6 linked regions of the Homo sapiens genome follow. The protein of the gene in region 4 purifies or fractionates together with the protein of the main gene of each other region. This does not show direct contact. Each region holds a gene or a part of one and is shown on either strand. Other genes may lie near its edges.

Evidence for each region.
Region 1: the proteins of DUSP10 (region 4) and PRUNE1 purify together in Homo sapiens (affinity purification with mass spectrometry, with the first as the bait; one large-scale study listed by BioGRID). This does not show direct contact.
Region 2: the proteins of DUSP10 (region 4) and CDC45 purify together in Homo sapiens (affinity purification with mass spectrometry, with the first as the bait; one large-scale study listed by BioGRID). This does not show direct contact.
Region 3: the proteins of DUSP10 (region 4) and SPRR3 purify together in Homo sapiens (affinity purification with mass spectrometry, with the first as the bait; one large-scale study listed by BioGRID). This does not show direct contact.
Region 5: the proteins of DUSP10 (region 4) and NUP205 purify together in Homo sapiens (affinity purification with mass spectrometry, with the first as the bait; one large-scale study listed by BioGRID). This does not show direct contact.
Region 6: the proteins of DUSP10 (region 4) and DNAJC10 purify together in Homo sapiens (affinity purification with mass spectrometry, with the first as the bait; one large-scale study listed by BioGRID). This does not show direct contact.

Annotation. Positions count from the first base shown.
Region 1 is NC_000001.11:151,014,852-151,018,621, reverse strand, and holds part of PRUNE1 (exopolyphosphatase PRUNE1), read right to left. Parts: intron 811-3,770; coding exon 718-810; intron 156-717; coding exon 1-155. UniProt on the Homo sapiens protein: Phosphodiesterase (PDE) that has higher activity toward cAMP than cGMP, as substrate. Plays a role in cell proliferation, migration and differentiation, and acts as a negative regulator of NME1. Plays a role in the regulation of neurogenesis.
Region 2 is NC_000022.11:19,503,755-19,507,524, reverse strand, and holds part of CDC45 (cell division control protein 45 homolog), read right to left. Parts: intron 2,164-3,770; coding exon 2,044-2,163; intron 140-2,043; coding exon 8-139; intron 1-7. UniProt on the Homo sapiens protein: Required for initiation of chromosomal DNA replication. Core component of CDC45-MCM-GINS (CMG) helicase, the molecular machine that unwinds template DNA during replication, and around which the replisome is built.
Region 3 is NC_000001.11:153,000,211-153,004,570, reverse strand, and holds SPRR3 (small proline-rich protein 3), read right to left. Parts: upstream 2,823-4,360; 5' UTR 2,778-2,822; intron 1,969-2,777; exon of another isoform or gene 1,885-1,968; intron 1,570-1,884; 5' UTR 1,551-1,569; coding exon 1,041-1,550; 3' UTR 715-1,040; downstream 1-714. UniProt on the Homo sapiens protein: Cross-linked envelope protein of keratinocytes.
Region 4 is NC_000001.11:221,731,896-221,735,665, forward strand, and holds part of DUSP10 (dual specificity protein phosphatase 10), read right to left. Parts: exon of another isoform or gene 3,540-3,770; intron 1-3,539. UniProt on the Homo sapiens protein: Protein phosphatase involved in the inactivation of MAP kinases. Has a specificity for the MAPK11/MAPK12/MAPK13/MAPK14 subfamily. It preferably dephosphorylates p38.
Region 5 is NC_000007.14:135,560,766-135,564,535, reverse strand, and holds part of NUP205 (nuclear pore complex protein Nup205), read right to left. Parts: intron 1-3,770. UniProt on the Homo sapiens protein: Plays a role in the nuclear pore complex (NPC) assembly and/or maintenance. May anchor NUP62 and other nucleoporins, but not NUP153 and TPR, to the NPC.
Region 6 is NC_000002.12:182,729,517-182,733,286, reverse strand, and holds part of DNAJC10 (dnaJ homolog subfamily C member 10 isoform 1 precursor), read right to left. Parts: intron 3,440-3,770; coding exon 3,346-3,439; intron 2,258-3,345; coding exon 2,180-2,257; intron 789-2,179; coding exon 745-788; intron 1-744. UniProt on the Homo sapiens protein: Endoplasmic reticulum disulfide reductase involved both in the correct folding of proteins and degradation of misfolded proteins.

The sequences.
Region 1 (3,770 bases), about 71 Mb from region 4:
TGGTATAATGCATGGAGGTCAATCTCATCCCGAAAAATCAAGATACTCTCTGGAATATGAACCTTCTGAAGAAAGAAGACAATGTCACCTCGCAGAGGTAGTTCAGAACGTTTTATATTTAAAACTGGCACAAAGACTTCCTCAGCCTCAGTTGTCTAGATAGGAAAGTGAAAAGAAGGTATCACAAGGTTTTATAATGACAGGAAAAAGTAACAAGACTACTGGGACCAAAGGAGACATACTTAGGTAAGTTACCACCTTTCTCAAAGCCATAAGTACCCAGTCTATAAAAATGAAAGGATGACTTTTGCCCTCCCTCCTTCTTAGTAATAACATGAAAGTCAACAAGGTAACTCATGGTAAATACCTATTTCTAGATGCAATGCTGCAGAGAAGGAATTTTTAGTCCTCAAGAACTAACCTGGGCAGAGGAATACACACTAGATCACTGATACCTATACGGAACTCAGTAATAAACTGTTTGAATATTGCTTTATGGTTTACATATCCCTCGAAATATATTTGCTCACTTTTTTCCTCACAGCAACACTGCAAAATATCATTTTAGTTTTTATGGATGGTGGCATGAGACTCAGCAAAGTTAAGGGATTTAATTTACCCAATGCTAAATGCTGGTAAGTGGTAGAGCTGGGTCTTGAATCCAGATCTTTTCGTTCTGAGGGACTCAGATCCTAGGTACTACGTTTTTTTACCCACCTTTGCTAGGTAAAAAGCCAGGGCAAGAGCAGACACTGTGGAGTCCAAATCACAGGCTTCATTTCCCAGCACAACATGTAGAGGTCGGGACTCCTGGAGAGAAAGGAAAATGGGAAACTAACAAAAGTATCTCTATTCATTTCCACTTATCTTTTTTTTTTAAATAATATATATATTTTTGAGACAGGTCTCACTCTGTCGCCCAGGCTGGAATGCAGTAGCGTGATCACAACTCCCTGCAGCCTCAACCTCCTACTAGGTTCAGTCGATCCTCCTGAGTAGCTGGAACTACAGGAAAGCGCCACCATGCCCAGCTAATTTTTTGTATTTTTTTGTAGAGACGGGATTTTGCCATGTTGCACAGGCTGGTCTCAAACTCCTGGGCTCGAGATCCAAAGTGCTGGGATAACAGGTATGAGCCACTGTGCCTGGCCTCTCCATCTACCTTATACTCATGTAGGGCTTCACACACTTCCTCTCATTGATCTTCACAGAGGAGGTAGGTCAAATAATCTAATGGGTCCTCATTCCATAGATGGCATAAGTGTTTCAGCTAAGCTTATAGCATTCTACCTATATCCAGTTTGTAGAAAAGTGTTCTTTCCTCCTATCTCCTTCAATGTTAACTTATAGAGCAGTAAATAAACTTCGGATTTCTTATCTTCTTTGGGCACTCAAACAGTCAAAAAAGGGAATTTGGGGTAGCTGATACATTCAAGGCATGCTCTTGGGCATATCAACCCTGGTTGATTATTTTCTTCCCATTTTCATAATAGGTAAAAGAATGCTTATACTTTTTTTTTTTTTTTTTTGAGATGGAGTTTTGACCAGATTCTCATGCCTCAGCCTCACAAGTAGCTGGGATTACAGGAATGCGCCACCACACCTAGCTAATTTTGTATTTTTAGTAGAGATGGGGTTTCTCCATGTTGGTCAGGCTGGTCTCGAACTCCCGACCTCAGGTGATCCGCCCGCCTTGGCCTCCCAAAGTGCTGGGATTACAGGCGTGAGCCACCGTGCTCGGCCGAATGCTTACACTTCTAAATCATGATTGCAGGTGAAGAGGCTTTGAGAATAAAGGTTAAAAGTAAGATCTAGTCCAGGGCTGGGCGTGGTGGCTGGCGCCTGTAATCCCAACACTTTGAGAGGCTGAGGCGGGCGGATCACCTAAGGTTAGGAGTTTGAGACCAACCTAACCAATATGATGAAACCCCATCTCTACTAAAAATACAAAAATTAGCCAGGCATGGTGGTATGCGCCTGTAATCCCAGCTACTCAGGAGGCTGAGACAGGAGAATTGCTTCAACCCGGCAGACGGAGGTTGCAGTGAGCCGAGATTGCGCCTTTGCACTCCAGCCTGGGCAACAAGAGCGAAACTCCATCTCAAATAAATAAATAAAATAAAATATACTAAAACTGGAGTGCCCAAAATCGGGGTGACAGGGTCTTGGGTTTTGTTTGGTTTTAAGCATTTATTGAATGTGCCAGGCATTATTCTCATATTTTTTCATGCATTAATCAATCATTTAATCTTTAACCCAATGAGGCAGGTACTTATATCATTTCATTCCAGGTATAAGCATTCTGCTGGGTGGAATGAGACCAGAAAGCCTATGGCCCAGCATATGGCACAATACTTCTGTCTTACCTGCTTACTTTTTTTTTTTGAGACAGGGTCTTACTTTGTTGCCCAGGCTGGAGTGCAGTGTCACTATCTTGGCTCACGGCAACCTCCACCTCCTGGGTTCAAGCAATTCTCCTGCACCATCCTCCTGAGTACCTGGGACTATAGGCATGCGCCATGATGCCCGGCTAATTCTTGTATTTTTGGTAGAGATGGGGTTTTGCCATGTTGGCCAGGCTGGTCGTGAACTCCTGACCTCCAGTGATCCGCCCACCTCAGCCTCCCAAAATGTTGGTGTGAGCCACCATGCCCAGCCCACCAGTTTACTTTTGAACTTCTATCTCAGCCTGGTTCTGAGAGAGGATGGGATGAGACAGACAAAATGAGACACACTAAATATAGCAGGGTTTCTCAATTTCAGCATGACTGGTATTTTGGACTAGATAATTCTTTTTCTTTTTTTAACTTTTACTTTTTGAGACAGGGTCTCACTCTGTAACCCAGGCTGGAGTGCATGGCGCAATCACGGCTCACTGCAGACTCCACCTCCCAGACTCAGGTGATCCTCCCATCTCAGCCTCCTGAGTAGCTGGGACTACAGGCACCCGCCACCATGCCCGACTAATTTTTTTTTTTTTTTTTTTTTGAGATGGAGTCTCACTCTGTCGCCCAGGCTGTAGTACAGTGGTGTGATCTCGGCTCACTGTAACCTCCACCTCCTGGGTTCAAGAGATTCTCTTGCCTCAGCCTCCTGAGTAGCTGGGATTACAGGCACATGCCACCATGCTCGGCTAATTTTTGTATTTTTAGTAGAGACGGGGTTTCACCATGTTGGTCAGGCTGGTCTTGAACTCCTGACCTCGTGATCCGCCCGCCTCAGACTCCCAAAGTGCTGGGATTACAGGCATGAGCCACCGTGCCCGGCCCTTGTTTTTTTTTTTTTTTTTCAGATGGAGTCTCACTCTGTCGCCCAGGCTGGAGTGCAGTGGTGCAATCTGGGCTCACTGCAACCTCTGCCTCCTGGGTTCAAGTGATTCTCCCCCTTCAGCCTCCCGAGTAGCTGTAGTAGACTACAGGCGTGCGCCACCACACCCAGCTAATTTTTGTATTTTTTAGTAGAGACAGGGTTTCACCATGTTGGCCAGGCTGGTCTTGAACTCCTGACCTCAGGTGATCCGCCCGCCTCAGCTTCCCCAAGTGTTGGGATTACAGGCGTGAGCCACCACGCCCAGCCAAATTTTTGCATTTTTTGTAGAGATGGGGTTTTACCATGTTGCCCATGCTGATCTCGAACTCCTGGGCTCAAGTGATACAGCTGCCTCGGCCTCCCAAAATGCTTGGATTACAGGCATGAGCCACCATGCCCAGCCGGATAATTCTTTTTTTGTGGAGGCTGTCCTGTGCATTATAGGATATTTGGCAGGATCC
Region 2 (3,770 bases), on a different chromosome or scaffold from region 4:
CACTCACCCCATGTCTGCAAGGAACTCCTGGAGCCGCTTCTGTCCATGCACAGACCACAGCTTGAACCTGGCTGCGGTATAGCTGGTGTTGCACAGGCTGTCATGGAGGGACCAGTGCTGGTAGAGCACCAGGCGGAGGCTGGGCCTGCAGTCAAGGAGCATGCAAGCACCCACTGGCCGCCCTGAGCACTCTCGTAACTCCAGCAGGTGGGCCACTCTGATGGCGGGGCCCTTTCTCACCAGGCCTGCCTGCAAAACCAGGTATCCCAAGAGTGACCTGGAGCCCTTTGACCTTCTTAGCTTAAGCTGACCCATACAGAGAGCCTGTGAAGTGACAGGCATAGACCACCATCCGTCTGACAGGCAGAGAATCTGGAGCACAGGGGTCTGCAAAGTCCAGGTGCTGTGGTCACATGGAGCAGTCATGGCCACACATGACGTAGGAGGCTGGGCGTCACCAGCTTGTCGTCCTGCACCTCCTGCTCCACCTAGCCCAGCCCTCCCTACAACCCATTCCTCCGGAGAGCCCTCCACTGGGACCCCATCCACGAAGCGCCCCCATCCTCAGCCCTTTTTTCGTTTTTTTTTTTTGAGACGGAGTCTCGCTCTGTCGCCCAGGCTGGAGTGCAGTGGCACGATCTCGGCTCGCTGCAAGCTCCACCTTCTGGATTCACGCCATTCTCCTGCCTCAGCCTCCCGAATAGCTGGGACTATAGGCACCCGCCACCATGCCTGGCTGATTTTTTGTATTTTTCGTAGAAACGAGGTTTCACCGTGTTAGCCAGGATGGTCTCGATCTCCTGACCTCATGATCCACTTGCCTTGGCCTCCCAGAGTGCTGGGATTACAGGCGTGAGCCACAGCGCCCGACCTCCTCAGCCCTTTTCTTAAACATATCCATCACTGCCCCTGGCACCGTGAGCGCAGTTGTGAGTGTGGACTGTCCCCCACGGTGGATTTCCCCTCTACAGGACGAGAGCCTGGTCCTGCCTGCTTCCTCGGCATGCTCAGTTCCCACCACTGCCCCTCCCAACTCCTGGGAACTCCCAGGCCTTCAGACCACCATGCTCCCTGCCCACACTCCAGCAGCTTCCTCAAGCCCCAGCATCCTCAGCTCCCTGACTCCCTCCCTCCTGTCTCAGTCACACACTCCCATGGTCCCTGGGTAAGTGAGCCCACCCTGCCACGCACATGATGGGACCAGCTCCAGTGCACAGCGGCTCCCCTCCCCAGGAGTTCAGCCAGCTCCACCCCGCTCCCCAGGCTCCGATGGCCACCTGACTACTGACGTGTCCACCCTCACTCTTCCTCCTTCCCAGCCATCACAGTGCAGAGACAGGGCAGCTCCGTCCCTGACATCATGCTATCTGACTGCTTACAGCCACTGCTGCAGTTTGGGCCAAGCCACTATTGTGTGGCCTTGGAAAGCAGTGACCATCTCCTTGCCCCCAACCTACCTCTACTGGGCAGCCAAGGGACCTTTTAAAAACCCTGACTCAAACTCTGGTCACTCCACAGCCTCCCGCTGCCCTTGGCTCACAAGGCTTGCTCTGGCCTCCTGACACCTGACCCCAGCCAGTCCCCCAGCCCCTCCTGTGCTCAGTACAGCAGCTGCCACACTGAGTGTGGCTGAGACTGTGTGAGATGTGGTCTCCCCATGGTCTTTTCTGAGCACTCCACCAATGTCCCATGTGCTTCTCAAAAGACACGTCACGCTGTGTGATTACATGGCAGCTGCCTTCTTTCCTGACTGCGTGAACCACTGCCCGCACTGCTACCATGTCCAGAGCCAGGCCCACAATAAGCACTTTACAGGGATGTGCTGGAGAAGGGTGATACTTCCAAACTCAGCTCTGGCATTTAGAAGCCAAAGCCACACAGATGAGCTGGGGTAGCACACCACAGCCCCTTCCCCCAAAACTTCCTGCCCCACCTGCTTTCCCTCCTGGGGATGTGGCCAGAACCCACAGAGGGTGACAAAGCAAACAAGGCCTGCTGAGCAGGGGTGCTGCCTGTGCCCCTCAGGCTGGGCCACAAGGATACTCATACTCAAAGGAGATCCGTGTGCAGTCCACGGAGAGTGTGTTCTCCTCATCCTCGTTCCGGTGGTTGTGGCGGGAAACGTGGCGCTGCAGGACACCAACATCAGTCACGTATTTCATTCTGGAAAAAAAAGTAGCACAAGCCTCGGCTGGTTCCCTCCAGCTCTTACCAGGCAGCCTAAGCCTAGGCTCCATTCCCGCTCAAGGCCTTCCTCAGGGGCCTGCTCACCACAGGAGCTGTTCCCATGCAGGGACTAAGGACATGCAGCCTGCATAGAAACCAAGCACCCAGGAAAACATGATTGGATGGAGCGGGGGGGTGTGGTCTCTAGCCTTGTCCACCTCCGGTCCTCATGGGTCTCACACCTCCTGAGAATGGGCACCGCAGAGGCCACAGCCCATACAGCCAAGATGACAGACTCCGTAAGTGACAGGGATCCACAGCAGAGTGGGTGAAATGTTCCCTATAAACTTTACAAAATTAATGAGGGCAGGGGGAGGGGAGAAATGAAAATGAACCCAGCTCGCAGCACATCAGCATCAGTCACTAGGTCGGCGTGCTCTCTGACTGCTTCCTCGTAGCTGCTTGGTGTCTCATTGCCTCAGAAGCATGTAGACCCTGTCACAAGATTGTAGTTCCCCTAACTGCTCCGTAGATCACAACTTGAACCTTAGGAAATGCTGTTTTCCCTTTGAGATATTCCTTTGGGTCCTGTATACTGATGGAGCTACTGACTGAGCTGCTCCGAAGGACCCCACGAGGAGCTGACTAAACCAAGAGTGCAGTTTGTACACCCTGATGATTACATCCCCCTTGCCCCACCAATCAACTCTCCCAATTTTCCAGCCCCTCACCCTCCAGTCCCCTTAAAAGCCCCAGCCCAGGCCGGGCACAGTGGCTCATGCCTGTAATCCCAGCACTTTGGGAGGCCAAGGTGGGCAGATCACCTGAGGGCAGGAATTTGAGACCAGCCTGACCAACATGAAGAAACCCCGTCTCTATTACAAATACAAAATTAGCCGGGCGTGTTGCTGCATACTGGTAATCCCAGCTACTTGGGAGGGTGAGGCAGGAGAATCACTTGAATCTGGGAGGCGGAGGTTGCGATGAGCCGAGACAGCGCCATTGCACTGCAGCCTGGGCAACAAGAGCAAAACTCCATCTCAAAAACAAACAAACAAACAAAACCAAAAAAGCCCAGCCCAGAACTCCTCAAGGAGATGGATTTGAGGATCTCCTCCCATCTTCTCACTCGGTGCCCTGCAATCATGAAACTCTTCCTCTGCTGCAAACTCTGCTGTCTCAGTGTAACAAGTCTGTTACTGCACAGCAGGCATACAAACCTGCTGGTCCTATAACACATTATGGTGAGTCTAGCCTCGAGCCCCTTGTGGGCATTTGCTTGCCTGCGGCTTGGTGCGCCTTCGCTGTTCAGTGGGAAGGACCCAGAGACAAGCCCAAAGCCCAAGCGGCCACTGGGTTCCATTGAACTATATGGGCTGCCACCCGTGCCCTGCCTGTTGACAGGGCAATGTCAACCTTTGGTGCATAGACTGCTCGCAGCAAAGCAAGTTTCTGGTTTTGAAAGGCATCTTAGGTAAGTTTTCTCCGTGCAACCAGCACCCTTTTCTCCTCTGATTTGCTGGCCTCTTTGGAGGTCCTGTGGCCTCTTCAAAGGTTTTGTGGCTCCCTCTGAAGTCTCGAGGCCTCTTCTGAGGTCTTGTCGA
Region 3 (4,360 bases), about 69 Mb from region 4:
CCACTGGGAGTGTGTGTGTGTGTGTTTGTGTGTATGGTTGTGTACTCATTTGTATTAGAAGGGCATGAATATCCTAACTCGTAAACAAGACTGCAAATTCTACAAGGGAGGTGCTGCGTATCCTCCTCTCTCTCTCTTGCTGGTCCATCTTTAGGGATCTCTGCACATAAGAGTTACTTAGAAAAAATAACATTGAGCTAGAGAGGGTAGAGCTTGTGTGAATGATTATGTGACTGTGTGGCTATTTAAAATGAATGTTTCTCTTTGTGAATGACTCTGTGTGTGTGTGTGCGTGTGTGTGTGTGTGTATGTGTGTGGTGGGGTATCTAGAAGGTAAAACAAATGAAGAAAAATAGACTGTCCAGTCAAAATATGTAGGAGTAAAGTTTTCTTGGAACAAACAGGAGATTTGTTGTCAGGATACTGAGGATCAGAGGTGTCTTGGAACAGGTGGCTTGGAGTCAGGCATGACTCAGTCCAGTGCAAGAGGAGAGCCTGTGGCTGCCCAAAGTGACAACTTCTATTCAACATCACACCAGGCCCATTGCCATTCCAGGAACACCTCAACTGTAACCCCATACACCCATAGAAACAAACAGTACTGGGGTTAAATAGATGACTTCTACATCAACTCCTCTCTGTCTATAGGTCCTGACTCACAATGGGGAAACAAGGAAGGAGGAAGATTCTGCCAATGACACACACAGCCAAGACTGGAATTAAAAGCAATTTAATGAGGGAAGAGCAGGAAACATGCATTTCTTTTCATTCGAATCTTCAGATGAACCCTGAGCAGCCGAAGACCAGAAAAGCCATGAAGACTTTCTGCTTAATTCAGGGGCTTACAGGATTCTTCAGAGTGTGTGTGAACAAAAGCTTTATAGTACGTATTTTTAGGATACAAATAAGAGAGAGACTATGGCTTGGGGTGACAATGTGCTGATTACAAGGTCTACAGACAATTAAGACACAGAAACAGATGGGAAGAGGGTGTCCAGCATCTGGTGGTTGGCTTCTCAAGGGCTTGTCTGTGCACCAAATTACTTCTGCTTGGTCTTCTGCTGAGCTGGGCCTGGAGTGACCGTTGAAGGACATGGCTCTGGTAGCTTTGTGTAGCCTGGCACAGGAACTTTGGTGTATCCTTGCTCAGGAACTTTGATGGCACCTGGCTCAGGAAACTTGATGAAGCCTTGGTCAGGGACCTTGATGCTGCCTGGTTCAGGGACCTTGGTGTAGCCTGGCTCAGGGACCTTGGTACAACCTGGCTCAGGGACCTTGGTACAGCCTGGCTCAGGGACCTTGGTACAACCTGGCTCAGGGACCTTGGTACAGCCTGGCTCAGGGACCTTGGTACAGCCTGGCTCAGGGACCTTGGTACAGCCTGGCTCTGGAATCTTTGTGTTTCCAGGTTGTGGAACCTTTGAGTGGCATGGCTCCTTGGTTGTGGGAACAAATATTTCCTGAGGTGGAGGCTGGCTGGGTTGTTTCACCTGCTGCTGTTGAAGCTGAGGTGGTGGGGTAAAGGTCTGCTTCTGCTGGTAAGAACTCATGCTTCAAAGGATGCTGGACCTAGAGACAAAACAGCTAATTCAGTGCTTTGATTAAGTAGGAATGAAGCCCAGTTTAATGACAAATATCTGTCATTTCATTCTCCTTCAGAACTGAGAGCCTCTCTTTTCTTTCTTTTTCCCTGAATTTGAGATCATGGGATGCTTTGGTGATCCCCACTTATCTTCCAGAGAATAAGGTAAAGTTGATTTCTTCCACATCGTGTAAATGGAGCCTTTCTTTATGCTTCTTTTCTTCCTGGTACATCTAAAAACCTACGTACAACATGAAAACACATACAAATATGCAAATATATACTCTGAAGCTTTCGCTTACACACTCTTTGAAGAATCCTCTAAGCTCCTGAATTAAGCAGAAAGTCTTAGTGGCTTTTCTGGTCTTCAGCTGCTCAGGGATCATCTGAGGAATTGAGTGAAAAGAAATGCATGTTTCTTGCTCTTCCCTGATTAAATCACTTTTAATACCACTCTTGGCTGTGTGTCATTGGCTGAAGATTGATGTGACACCTCAGTTTTTCCATAAGTTGGAAAGATTTTAAGGTCAGCAGTCTAGAATCTACTCACTCATGTCCTCCTTATAGAGTGCGATAGTTCTCCCAGGAGAACTCTTATCTAAACTTCCCCCTAAGGCTCCCACAATCCACCTGGGAGCCTCTGTTCACACTGTGCCTGCTGCACATGCTCTCTGGCAGGCTCTCCACATCATCGCTGCCTCCCCACACATGCCCACCTCTCATGGCTGTCCTTCCTGATGCTCTCACCTTCCTCGTTTTGCCACAGCATGATACTTGCTTTCCCTCTCTGCTAATCACTCCCCATGCTGTATGTTTGCAAATTTTAGTCAAGTATATGTTTTCTAATGGATTATACATTCATGCAATAAAGAAAAACTTATCTTTTGATCATCAAAATTGCCAATGTAGTGCCTTCTATATTAAAAATTTTCAATACATGTTGACAGGAGAGTGCTCTTGAAGTGGGTATATTGTCTTGCTAACTTAGCAAGCCTTTACAGAAATCACTCCCCTTTTCTGATCCTAAGTTCCACACCTGTAATCTGAGTGGAAAGTCAAAATATGTATAAGGTCACCTTAAACAAAAGTCGTTATTGCATTTAAAATAAATATATTCATTGCATAGCAAAGAGATCTCAATCAAAATAAAGAAACTATTGGAGAATATTAAGGTGTTCCTAATGCGGAGACTCACCTGCTGTGCAGAGAAGGTCGAGGTGTTCAGCCTCTGGGATCTGGTGAAGAGTCTCTTGTTAGCTGGTATTTATATAGAAAATGAGCCCTGCCTTAAGAAAATTGGATTTTTTAAAAGACTGCTCTAACTTCATTCCAGCTTTTGTGATAAGTATCTCTGGCTTAACATTTTTTGTCACTTAAGCTCTGACAGTGATGTCACCTGGGCCTGACTCACTGTCCACCCTTTGTGGTGTGGTTGCTGTGGGCAAAGGTCTTCTTGAATGGCAATGGATTAAATTAGGAGGAAGTACCATGCTCCTAGGACTAGAACGAGCCAGGCCTCTTGGCCTGGGCCCTAATCTTTAGCCAGATTAGTCCTATTGGGCTTCCTCATGGTTGAAGTGGACATGGAAATAACAATAGGCATTTCTGGTTCTGCGAGGCCATGGGGATGGTGCAGAATAAGTGAATCATCTGATTTTCAGTCTCTTACTGGATTTGGACCTGGGAGGAGCAATGGAAGGCAAAATGCCTGCTTTGGAAATAAGTTGCTTTCACTGTGAAGGGCGCCTTAAGGTGCCGTGTTGATCAGGGATAGTAGATGTCATTGAGATGGACAGGCAGGATTGACTGGATCTGTGTGACATTGTGGCTCAGCCCTGAAGACCCTGCCTCTTGTGGTATCTTTCTTCTCCAGGAGTGACATAGGAAGAGGAGCGTGCTGATTCCCTAGGTTCATACACCAGCCATTTCCTCTGATCACTACAGGATGAACCTCAAGTCACTAACTCAGAGTTGCCCTCAATACACACTCTCTTACTAGACGCGGCCCTTGGAAAATCCAGACATCCTTACATCTCAGGCATGTGAATAGCTCCTCCTTTCCCAATGTTCCACGACTGTGTTACTCCCTTGAACCTGATGCCCAGCTCCTTCCACCAGGTTCTGAAAGCCCCTTGTTCTACTTCAGCGTCACACAGTGCCTGGTTATCATGGGTGTTAAGTCAATGGACAGTCATTGTTCTCCTGAATAGAGCTGTAGGTTCATGGAAGGGAGAAAGGAAGTGAGAAAGAAACAGAGATAGATAAAGAAGAAAGGAAAGAAAGAAAGAAAGAGAGAGAGAGAGAAGGAAAGAAAGAAAGAAAGGAAGGAAGAAAGGAAGGGGAGGGGAAGGAAAGGAAAAGAAAAGAAAAGAGAAAAGAAAAGAGGAAAGATAGGGAGGGAGGGAGGAAGGCAGGAAGCCACAAGGCAGTTTCTTGGGCATGATTCACTGTCCTGTGCCAGGCCTCCTGGTGTGAGCTGAGAAGAGGTGTGAGCTGATAATTCATGAAGGAGAAGAGGCTTACCCTCCCTTCCACACCCATGTCCTTCCCTCTCTGCTAGCATTTGTTTGACCGGCCACTTCCCTCTGGGATGGGCCAGGGCCACTGCCATGCCTAAACTCTGGGCTCTGTCATCACATTAGCTCTTTTTCAGTGTTGGGTCCAGGTTTCTCTCCTCAGCAAATCCACCTCTCAGGAGCCACAGACCCTGGGGGCTTCGGCTAGACCCTGCTGCTCCACCTGGGATTTTCCTCCCCAGAGGAAGGAAGCTCCTCTATG
Region 4 (3,770 bases):
CACACCCGGCTGGCTATTTCTTAAAAAAGAAAAAGAAAAAAAAAGTACAAACATGTGCTTCACAGGAGAACAAAATTTCGTGAAGATGAAACACTCCCTAAATAAGATTGTGTGGCAGAAGAAGATGAAGAATAGAAACATGAACACAATTTCCAAGATGGAAAGGATCTGGAAGACTGGTCCCATCCATATATGTTGTCTTTCTTGCATTTGAATGATAAGCATTGTGATGCAGATTGCCCAGCCTGCAGATTAGTGCCTAGCACACCAAAGGCATTCAACAATATTTATTGAACAAACAAATGAATCTCCTCTGCCCACAAGTTTGTACAGCTGTGGAGACCACCTACCAAAAAGTCCCTAGAAGCCTAAGATGGTTGGGCTTCTTTGATACCTGTTTTGATAGCTGTTAACAGCTGAAACCACTAGGTTAACAGCTTAAACCACTAGGTTCCCCAGATGAAGAGATTAAATCAACATTAATATTTGGTCCATATTCTAATATCCAGGTAAATATATAGACCATGAACTGCTGGTTTTGAAAGTCCTCAGACTTTGGTCTTTTTAGTTCTGAACTGAAATCTCAAAATTCAAGAAAAAAGGCATCAGTACTCAAAAAATCTTATATTTTATGCTATATATTAGATTCTGTTGTTATTAAATAATGATACATACGAATACCTCAGTCTGTTGATATCTATTGAATCTGTTGAACCTGGCAAGACCTACTTTAACATTAAGGACTAAATCTCTAAAATTAATCATGCATGTGACCTTGGACAAGCCCCATTCCTGTAGTGGCATAATGAGAATACCGGACTAGATCAATGGTTCTCAAACTTTGCTGCCTGTTAGAATCACTTTGGGAGCTTTAAAAAAATCTTGATGTGCAGGCTGCACCCCAGACCAATTTAATCAGGCTTTCTGGACACACGAACTGGGCATCATAGGTTATAAATCACCTTCAGGTGATACCAATGAACAGCCTGCAGTGAAAACTACTGGATTAGGGGCCCTCTAAAGTTCCTTGCTCTTCTCAAAGCTGGGATTCTTTAGTTCCAAAAAGGTGAGATGACCTCTCCTGGAACTAGAATTTCTCTCCTTAATATGTAGTCTATCTTTTTCAACCAACTTGGATTAAACTGCCTAAGCACTCCGATATATCACACATTCATGCCCAAACTGCTCTTCAGCAATGCTGGGGCTTGGAGGTTCTGGCTTCTGATAATGCAGGGTTTAAGGAACTAGATTTTTGCTACTGGTCAAAAGCTCCCACTTAGTCCCTGAGGGTGTATGCACCAGGAGTATGTGACGGAAAGTTTTTCTGCTCCTGTAATTTTGTCAGACCTTCAGATGGGTTTGCCTAAAGGACCAAGTAGAAAAGTGTACATATTCACCATTCTCCCTTCTCCTTTCTCCTATACACACGTGCTTTGAAAACAGAAATAGGCAAAGTGCTTTACCTATTCAGTTTCCTTCCCCTGCTTTGCTTTTCTAATGTGAAATCATGTCTCCTATTGCCAGGAGAGGAGTTTCTTGAACTTGTCCATGACAAGCTGGATGATTAAGTTAATTAACTGTTCTGAATTGGTAAGGGCAAGAGTATTCATACTTAACAGGCTCCCACAGTACTGTGCTTAGAACGACTTGCCCATCCTCCCCAATACCCCTGCCCCTGCAATGTAAGAGGTTCTTACATTAGTGCATGAGAGTAGGAGAGCAGGGTCCAGAGGCTTGATTTATTGACAGCCATCAAATGCCAGGTACTTTGTATCACCTTGTTTCAACCTAGGATGCTGGAGCTGTCCCTGTTTTACAATGAAGAAAACCTGGCCTCTGAGAGGCCCCCTGATTTGCCTAAAGGCATACAGTTGGTCAATGGAAATGCCTAGATTTGAACCCAGGTGTAAGTGAGCAAAATTTCACTCTGCTGAGCACATCGTGAATGAGGAACAGATAAAGCAAGAACATGGCTGGGAGAGAGAGTTCATTTCTATTATCTGTTCACCTACACTTAAATTAGGAAGCAGGAGAGTGTACCCAAAAGCTCAGAGAGAGGACAGCCAACTAACTGTGCAGCAGTTCAGAAAGAAGTTTCAGGACTTCCTGAAAGACAGGAGCAGGCCATTCAACTCCTTCCCTCCTTTTTCCTTCACATTCTAACTCAACACAACCCTAGGCTCAGGAACCAGCGCACCCCTCCTTCCATCTACCCTTTTATAGTCAGTCCACAATCCTTATTCCAAAAATAAATCCTCCTGATGAGATGATGAGAGGCAACAAAAAGCAAAGCTAAAAAGTTTTATGCTTTTGTTATGGGACATTATTTGGACAGAATTATTATCATGTTTTTACAAATTTCCCTAAAACAAATAATTCTGGATATACCCAAATTACTCCAGCCTCCTGGCCCAATATGTTTTTGCAATTACTTGGCACTCCAACTCTATGCAACTTAAATTAGTTAACAGTCACCAAGTTATTTTTAGGCCATAGCAACACACACACTCTACTATACCTAGCTTGTTATTTGTACTCCTTAGGAACAAAATTTGCCTTTGTACTGGCACTATCATTTCCTTTCAATCAATATCAATAAAAACATTCTACCATATTTATGGAGTGCTTACCATGTATGTGTATAAAGTTCTGAACACTTTACACACATTAATTCATTTATTTCAGAAACTAACACTTTGAGATAGCTATTGTTATATCCTCTTTTTGTTAATGAGGTAACTAAGGAACTGAAGGATTCAGTTCCTTCCCCAAGGGCACATACCTAGTTAGAGGGGAGCCAAGGCTAGCATTCAGGCTGACTAGATCCGAAGTTCTGCCTTGATTTCTCCATCATTTGCTACAAGGCTAATGTTTGACATTTTAGCCTTGGATGTTAACCAGAGGCTCAGAATAACAACAGCACGTTTATGAATGTAGATATGTCTTTATTTCAGGTATTTTTTAAAATCCTCATAACATCTCTGAGAGAAAAGGGGAGACTTTTATTCCCTTCCCCACCCCACCCCCGAAAAAAGGGCAGAAACAGAATATTTTTCACAGGTCTCTGATTTCTGAGCCTAGCCATCCACTTTGTCATAGAACTCTATTGCCAATAAGAGTATATTTCAGAATTCTTTTCAACTAGGGAAAAGTGTGCAATGTATGGTGCTCAATTCTAAGGAGTGATGAAGTTTTATAGTATAAAGGCCTAACTGCCTGCATGATCAAATCCTCCCCATGGATCATCCTTTTAAACCATTTCCCTCTTCTTCTCACATTCCCCCAGTAAAGGCCTTTGGTACAGAGCAGTCCTATAAAGATTGTAGCAGTTGGTCATTCCTTGTTTTACAACAGCATAGAGCAAGTAGAGGCATGGGCTCTGACATACCAGGGAGGAAGGGGGACACACAGACCCCAAGGAGGCACCTGGAGCCCTCCTACTCCCAGGGAGGGAAGCTCCTCTGTAGACCTGACTGCCAGTCAGTCACAGAGGGATTCGAAGTTGAAAAGCACTTAAAAATGGGTACATGACACTCAAGTGTTTACGAGTGAAAATGTTCATAGTATACTATAAAATATTTCCAGCTTTATTGAATTTGAAACATTAATTTACACATTAAACATACTTAAATACATTAAAACATTATCTATATTTTTAAATATTTCAACAGAAAAGAGAAAGCAAATAGGAAAAATATAATTGTTTAATCTGGTTGATAGGTGTATGGATGTTCATTACACACTTTTCTGCTTTTCTATATGCTTGAAAA
Region 5 (3,770 bases), on a different chromosome or scaffold from region 4:
TGACTCATGCCTGTAATCCAGCACTTTGGGAGGCCGAGGTGGGCAGATCACAAGGTCAGGAGTTCAAGACCAGCATGGCCAACATGGTGAAACCCTGTCTCTACTAAACACACACAAAAAAATTAGCTGGGCATGGTGGCTAACACCTGTAATCCCAGTTACTTGGGAGGCCGGGGCAGGAGAATTGCTTGAACCCAGGAGGCAGAGGTTGCAGTCACCTGAGATCATGCCATTGCACTCCAGCCTGGGTGACAGGGCAAGACTCCGTCTCAAAAAAAAAAAAAAAAAAATAGCTGGGCATGGTGGCTTGTGCCTATAGTCTCAGCTACTCATGAGGCTGAAGTGGGAGGATCACCTGAGTCTCAGAGGGTAGAGGCTGTAGTATGCCATGACTGAGCCACTGCACTCCAGCGTGGGCAACAGAGTGAAACCTCGTCTCAAAGAAGAAAAAGAAAAAAAAAACACCAAAGGTAGCCGCAACAAAGAGTTATCTTCAATCTGTCTTGAGTTTGACCAATTTCAGTAAACACCTTTTTTTTGTTTGTTTTTTGTGACAGGGTCTTGCTGTCACCCAGGCTGGAGTGCAGTGAGGCAATCACAGCTCATTACAGCCTCAAACTCCTGGGCTCAAGCAACCTCCTGCCTCAGCTTCTCTAGTAGCTAGGATTACAGGCGCACGCGCACCACCAGACCTGGCTAATTTTTGTATTTTTTGTAGAACTGGGATGTTGCTATGTTGCCCAGGCTTGCCTTGAACTCCTGGCCTCAAGTGATCCTCCCTCCTCAGCCTCCTAAAGTGCTAGGATTACAGTAAATATCTTTTTTACTGATTACAAATGAAGGGACACTATAAATTTTTCAAAATTACTAAATATGTATTTTTACCATGTAGTTTAGTCAGTTGAGAAATACATTTATTTTCCTTAATGTTTAGGGATACCTCCAGCAAATCACATTTACTCACTCATTCACCATGTGTGAGGTATTGGTAAGATTATACTGCAGTGAGGAAAAACATTAATCATAATCATACATAAATGTAAAATCTGGCCGGGCACAGTGGCTCACGCCTGTAATCCCACCACTTTGAGAGGCCAAGGCGGGCCACATCACGAGGTCAGGAGATCAAGACCGTCCTGGCCAACACAGCGAAACCCCGTCTCTACCAAAAATACAAAAAATTAGCCAGGCGTGATGGCATGCGCCTGTAGTCCCAGCTGCTAGGGAGGCTGAGGCAGGAGAATCGCTTGAACCCAGGAGGCGGAGGCTGCAGTGAGCCGAGATCACGCCACTGCACTCCAGCCTGGGCTACAGAGTAAGACTCCATCTCAAAAAATAAAAAAATAAATAAAAATAAAATAAAATCCAACTGTGGTCAGGATATGAAGGATATGAAGGAGAGGTAGCCAGGGCAAGAGATCACATAATAGGGGACTCTGACCTAGCCAGAGGAAAGAATTATCCATGAGGAAGTGATAACTAGGCTGAAATCTGAAGAACAAAAGTGATAGTTAACTGACAGGTGGGAGGTGAAGACATGCATTCCAGGGAGAGGACAACCTGTGGGTTTCCATGGCAAGAGGGAATGCGGCATGTCAAAGAACTCAAAAGGCCAAGAGAGCTGCAGTACAGAAAACGGGTTTGGCAAGATCATCACACAGGGCTCACTTGCCCACGTTAAAGAATTTTGATGACCGAGTGTGGTGGCTCAGGCCTGTAATCCCAGCACTTTGGGATACCGAGGCGGGCAGATACGAGGTCAGGAGATCAAGACCATCCTGGCCAACACGGTGAAACCCTGCTCTACTAAAAATACAAAAATTAGCTGGGTGTGGTGGCGCACGCCTGTAGTCCCAGCTACTCAGGAGGCTGAGGCAAGAGAATCGCTTGAACTTGGGAGGCAGAGGTTTCAGTGAGCCAAGATCGCGCCACTGCACTCCAGCCTGGCAACAGAGCCAGACTCTGTCTCAAAAAAAAAAAAAAAAAAAAAGGATTTTGGTCTTTACTCTAAAAGATCAAGCCAAATGAAGATTTAAAACATGGGGACTTTCTGCTCATGCCTATAACCCCAGCACTTTGGGAGGCCGAGGCAGGTGAATCGTTTGAGGTCAGAAATTCGAGGCACCCCTGGCCAACGTGGTGAAACCCCATCTCTACTAAAATTACAAAAATTAGCCAGGTGTGGTGGTGGGCGCCTGTAATCCCAGCTACTTAGGGAGGCTAAGGCAGGAGAATCTCTTGAACCTGGGAGGCAGAGGTTGTAGTGAGCTGAGATCACACCACCGCACTCCAGTCTGGGCGACAGAATGAGCCCCTGTCTCAAAATAAAAAATAATTTTTTAAAAAGGAACTTTCTGAACTACAAGAAACAGAAGTTAACCCTATTGAGAGCTGTTTACAAGGATGGAAGAGACCAGAATGGGTGAAGGAATAGGAGGTATGAAAAGGGAGTCAGTAGGCTGGGCATAGCAGTTCAGGCCTGTAATCCCAGCTACTAGGCTGAGGCAGGAGAATCATTTAAACTTGGGAGGTGGAGACTGCAGTGAGCCGAGACTGCACCACTGCACTCCAGCCTGGGCAGAGTGAGGGAGGGAGGGAAGGAAGGAAGGAAGGAAGGAGGGAAGGAAGGAAGGAACAAAGGAAGGAAGGAGATGGAGTCCATGAATACTAACAAATCTTTTGAAAGGCTTGACTAGGAAGAGGACAGTAAGTGGAGTGACGCATGAGATCATCAGTGGAGAGAAAGGGAAGAGCAAGAGAGAGAAGTGAATATACAAGACAAAAAAAGGGGTAACAGGTGAAGAACACAATGGGTGGGATTTACATTAGATAGGAAGACAGAGGAAAAGTGATTCAAAAGAATGCAGACACACCTAGGTTTGTAGGTTTGAGAGTGAATAAAGGGAGTTCATGTATGTTGGCTCCTATTTTCTCTGTGACTAGAAGTCTGAGGGTTTAGTTAGTTGCAGGTTAAAGATTTGAAGAGTGTAGAAAGGTCTGAAGTAGTCACTGCTGTGAATGGACGAGGTGACCAGACTATCACAGAAGGACTGCCAAGCAGTGTTAATAGTTGCTTATTCACAAGTCTGTGAGTGTACTCAGCCAGGTTGATACAGGTCACAAGACTAGTTAAGTTATACAGCTGAAATACAAGCATAGGTTTTTTTGTTTGTTTTTTGTTTGTTTGTTTTTAAGACAGAGTCTCGCTCTGTTGCCTAGGCTGGAGTGCAGTGGTATGATCTCGGCTCACTGCAACCTCCTCCTCCTGGGTTCAAGCAATTCTCCTGCCTCAGCCTCCCGAGTAGCTGGGATTACAGACACCTGCCATCATGCCAGGCTAATTTTTGTATTTTTGTAGAGACAGGGTTTCACCATGTTGGCCAGGCTGGTCTCGAACTCCTGACTTCAGGTGATCTGCCCACTTCAGCCTCCCAAAGTGCTGGGATTACAGGCATAAGCCACCACACCTGGCCAACCATAGGTCTTAGAACTCTACAATCTCTGTATTTTTTCCTTACAACTCCAAGATGTTTGATTTTTTAAAACTGTAATTTAAAGGAAGCACATAACATAGAATGCAATCTCAACAAATTTTAAGTGTACAGTTCAGCAGTGTTCAGTGTATTCACATTGTGCAACAGATCTTCACAGCTTTTTTCATCTTGCAAAACAGAAACTCTATGCCCCCTAAACAACTCCCCACTTTCCCCTTTCCCAGCCCCTGGCAACCACCATTCTACTTTCTGTTTCTATGAGTATGACTACTTCAG
Region 6 (3,770 bases), on a different chromosome or scaffold from region 4:
CCATAATGCACAAAGAGAAATAAATAGCCGCCAAAGGATATAATGATCATACTGCTGCCAACAATATAATGTCAAAATATGTAAAGGAAGAACTGACAGAAATATAAGAAATAGATAAATCAATGATGGATGGTAGAGATTTTAATACATCCCTCTTAGAAATTATAGATCATGTAGTCCAAAAACAAATAACATGATTAATAAATCTGATCTAATAAATGTAATACTACACCTAACATATATTACACCTAACATAACATTATTATATTCAAGCTCACAAAGAATTTCCAAAATTTTCAAAACTGACAATTTGTGTGGCTTTGTCAAGCCACAAAGCCACAAAGGGTATTTCAATGGTGTTAAAAAATCAACATCACTCAGGCTACTTCCCAGCCATAACATGAGAGCTATATACATTTAAAAATGACTAAAAAAGAAAACAACAAAAGATAAAGTTGGGAAATGACAAAAACACTAACATGTAACTTCAGTTGAAGAGGAACTTATAAATTACAGAATACTTACAAAGTAAATGACACTTAGAATTGATACCACGTTAAAATTTATTGAACGTAACTAATTATTCAGGAAAAAACACATAGCTATGAATACAGTCATCAGAAAATAAGATTACAAATAGGTGAGTTAAATGTTCAAGAAATAAGGGAAGAAAATGTTTCAAATCAATTTCTAAATGTGTTTCTTTACATGGTGATATAGTTTTACAAAATGATTGATGCTTACCAACATGCCACTAAGCCTGAGTCGTGTCTGTGAAGTCAAACAATCTGGGGACAAAAAAACCTTATGAGGCAGTTTTACCTTTATTAAGCCTGATGAAAATACTTGCATTTGCCTTTCCCCCAAATTACCATGTTCATTCGAAGGCAATTAATTGAGCTGGACTCTATTGATAGATATGGAAATCCTTCTACACACACACACATACAAACACACACACAAAAACACACACACACTCCCTCGCTCCCTCTTTCTTTCATTCTCTCCCTTTAATTTCTAGGATGTCTAGCTACAGAGAAAAAGTAATTTTCTCTCTTTAGGTTAATACTCTCAATCTCTCCTCCTATCAACAATCCATTTTATCCAAGAGATCTCAAAATTGGGGGGAAATAAAATGTAATAGATATTTGATAGAAGTATATAAAGGATCCTCAAAATACAATAAAATCTTTAAATAGTGCCTTCACTATTTTTATGAAAGTTCTGCAAATATGAACACTAGAATACAATGAGAGAAGATTTAGAAGAAAGAGAGCTATAGCATCACAGAGCCTACAAAGACAGGGAGAAGCAATTTACTTGAGGTGAGAAGTAAAAGAATCTCAGAGAATGTAAGAACTTTTGTTCATGTGTGGATGAACAGAAATTTGGGCAATAGGCCAAAATGAGACAAAATCCCTTGGTGATTAGTTAAGTTTAAGGCTGACGTTTTGCTGCAAGGCAGTGTCTTTCTAGCATAGGCCTTACAGGATGGGGTAATGGGTTGATTTTAGTTACAAGGCAGTACCTTTTCAATATAGCAGCATGAAGGCTGAGAGATGAAATGTGGGGAGAAGACTCATGTTGGGATTAAATACATGCAAATACATTGAGTTATAATATTTTGTTGTCTTAGAACAATTTTTAACCAACCACATTGCTTGAACACAGTTTACAGTTTACGGCTTGCTATGCAGAGTACTGAATTTTCAACTTAATTTATTCAAGGAAAGGTTCCTAGAAGAAGCTGTCATCTTCAAGTATATAATTGTATGAGGCAAATCTATGTATGTTTGAGAGATATATATAAGCATGAAGCAAAGTCCATATTTCCAAAAAATTATTATTTTGGGAGGGGTTAGAGCTGTAAACAACTAGTTATTTTTGCAAATTGTCAAATAACATCTGTGGCTATCTGAAGGTACAATTTATCATGAGTCTAAGCTGAAAAACTGGTCCACTGAACATAAAAACATAGAGGATACATTAAAAAATGAATAATAACCTCATGTGTAAAATAATGAAAAAGGCGAATATTCATTAAGTAAAAAAATTGTAATCCTGGGCATAAATTGTAGTTTCTAGTACTTAATAATCAATTACAGTAGCATACTTAAAACTGTCACCAAAAATTTAAATGTCATGTTCTCATTCCAACAAAATTAAAAAATAGTATTACCTCCTCCTTTTGAACAAAAAGTGATCAGCCAGCCAATACCAGCAGCAAAAGCAGTTTGTATGGAGTTGACAAAATTTCCTTAAAAATAAAAGAAAAAAAGCAAATTCTGATCACCTATTACTCCTTTACTAATGGAAACAGTCTTCTAAGTAATTTTTCCTTTCTAATCTCACCCTCTTCTAATCCACTCTGAGTTTTACCAGTTATCTTTCCAAAGATACTCTTGAGTATGACAAATTCCTTCAATGGCTCTCCAATTTTTTCATCATATAAAACCTAAATTCATTATTTCATTAAGAAAAAAACTCAAATTGGCAAGTTAGGCCCCTGTGACTTGAGCTTTGCCTACCTATTTAGCCAGCTATATTATATTTCCCCACACCACTTGACCCAATTATTGATCTTTTTGTCAGATTCATGAAGTATTGCCAGTTCCCCAAATACACAGTGATCTCCTAAGGCTTCCTATTCATTTTCATGACAGATTGGATATGACTTCTTTCAAGAAGTATTTTCTAACTCTTTCTCTTTTCCCCAACTGGGTTGTTTTACACATCTTATGCTCCCTTAAGCTCTATAATAATAGTACCTATATTGCATTTTAATTGTTTACTAATGTTTTCCTCACTAATGAAGTCACTGATGGCAGGGACTATATATTTTATTACTGCAGCCCCACTATTTAATAGTTTCTGACACGTAACTTTACTCAATGAATAAAATGAACATCTTGAGCCACAAATACTATTATTAGCTTAATCTGCCTAAAGGCAGTTAATGAGTTAAAAGCCTAAGATTAGAAGCATTTTTAAACTTTAAAATTAAACAGAATAGGTTTGAATTTACTGATTGATAAGCATATTTAAAAAAGCAATAAAACACTTGTATTACAAAACATTTTTTGCACTTTGAGAGATGCCTTTTTTACCGTAGCCCTATCTCATATCCATTTCCCATATCTCGATAGTTCAAGTTTCTGTAAAAATTTAACTAGTTTGTTAAATTCAGCAGAGTTCAGAGTAAATGACACAATTCCCTTCTAAGAAACATGGAAAAGACACTTTAAAATTTCAATACCATGACCAAAATGTTAATATTGCCATTAAAAACAAAATACTGATTTCAAAATACCCTGAAAATCAAGCAAATTAAGAAAATAAAATTACCTGTCCAAAGTTCTGTCACTGTACTTCTAACATGCTGCATTGCAAAACTCACTAAACTCTCCTTTGATCTGTCTCCATGATATTTCACTGGGGCCTATTGGTTTTTGTAAGAAGAGAAACATCTTTTACTTTTTCTTTTTAAAACTCAATAAAAATAATACCAAAGAGTTTGATTTTTACATTATCTTGAATAATGCAGCAAAGCTCTATTTCTCAATAGCAGAATGTATTTCCAAATGATATCCTGATAATCTTGACAGTACAGATTCTATGGAACACATTTTAATAATACCATTTATAATCGTTCAGGTTCCTCACTGGAAACTAAGAAAAAAGATATCAGAGCTTTACATTCAATGAGACAACACTTGTAAAATACTTTGTAAACTACCAAATACAATATACATATTGTATAAATTATGTTC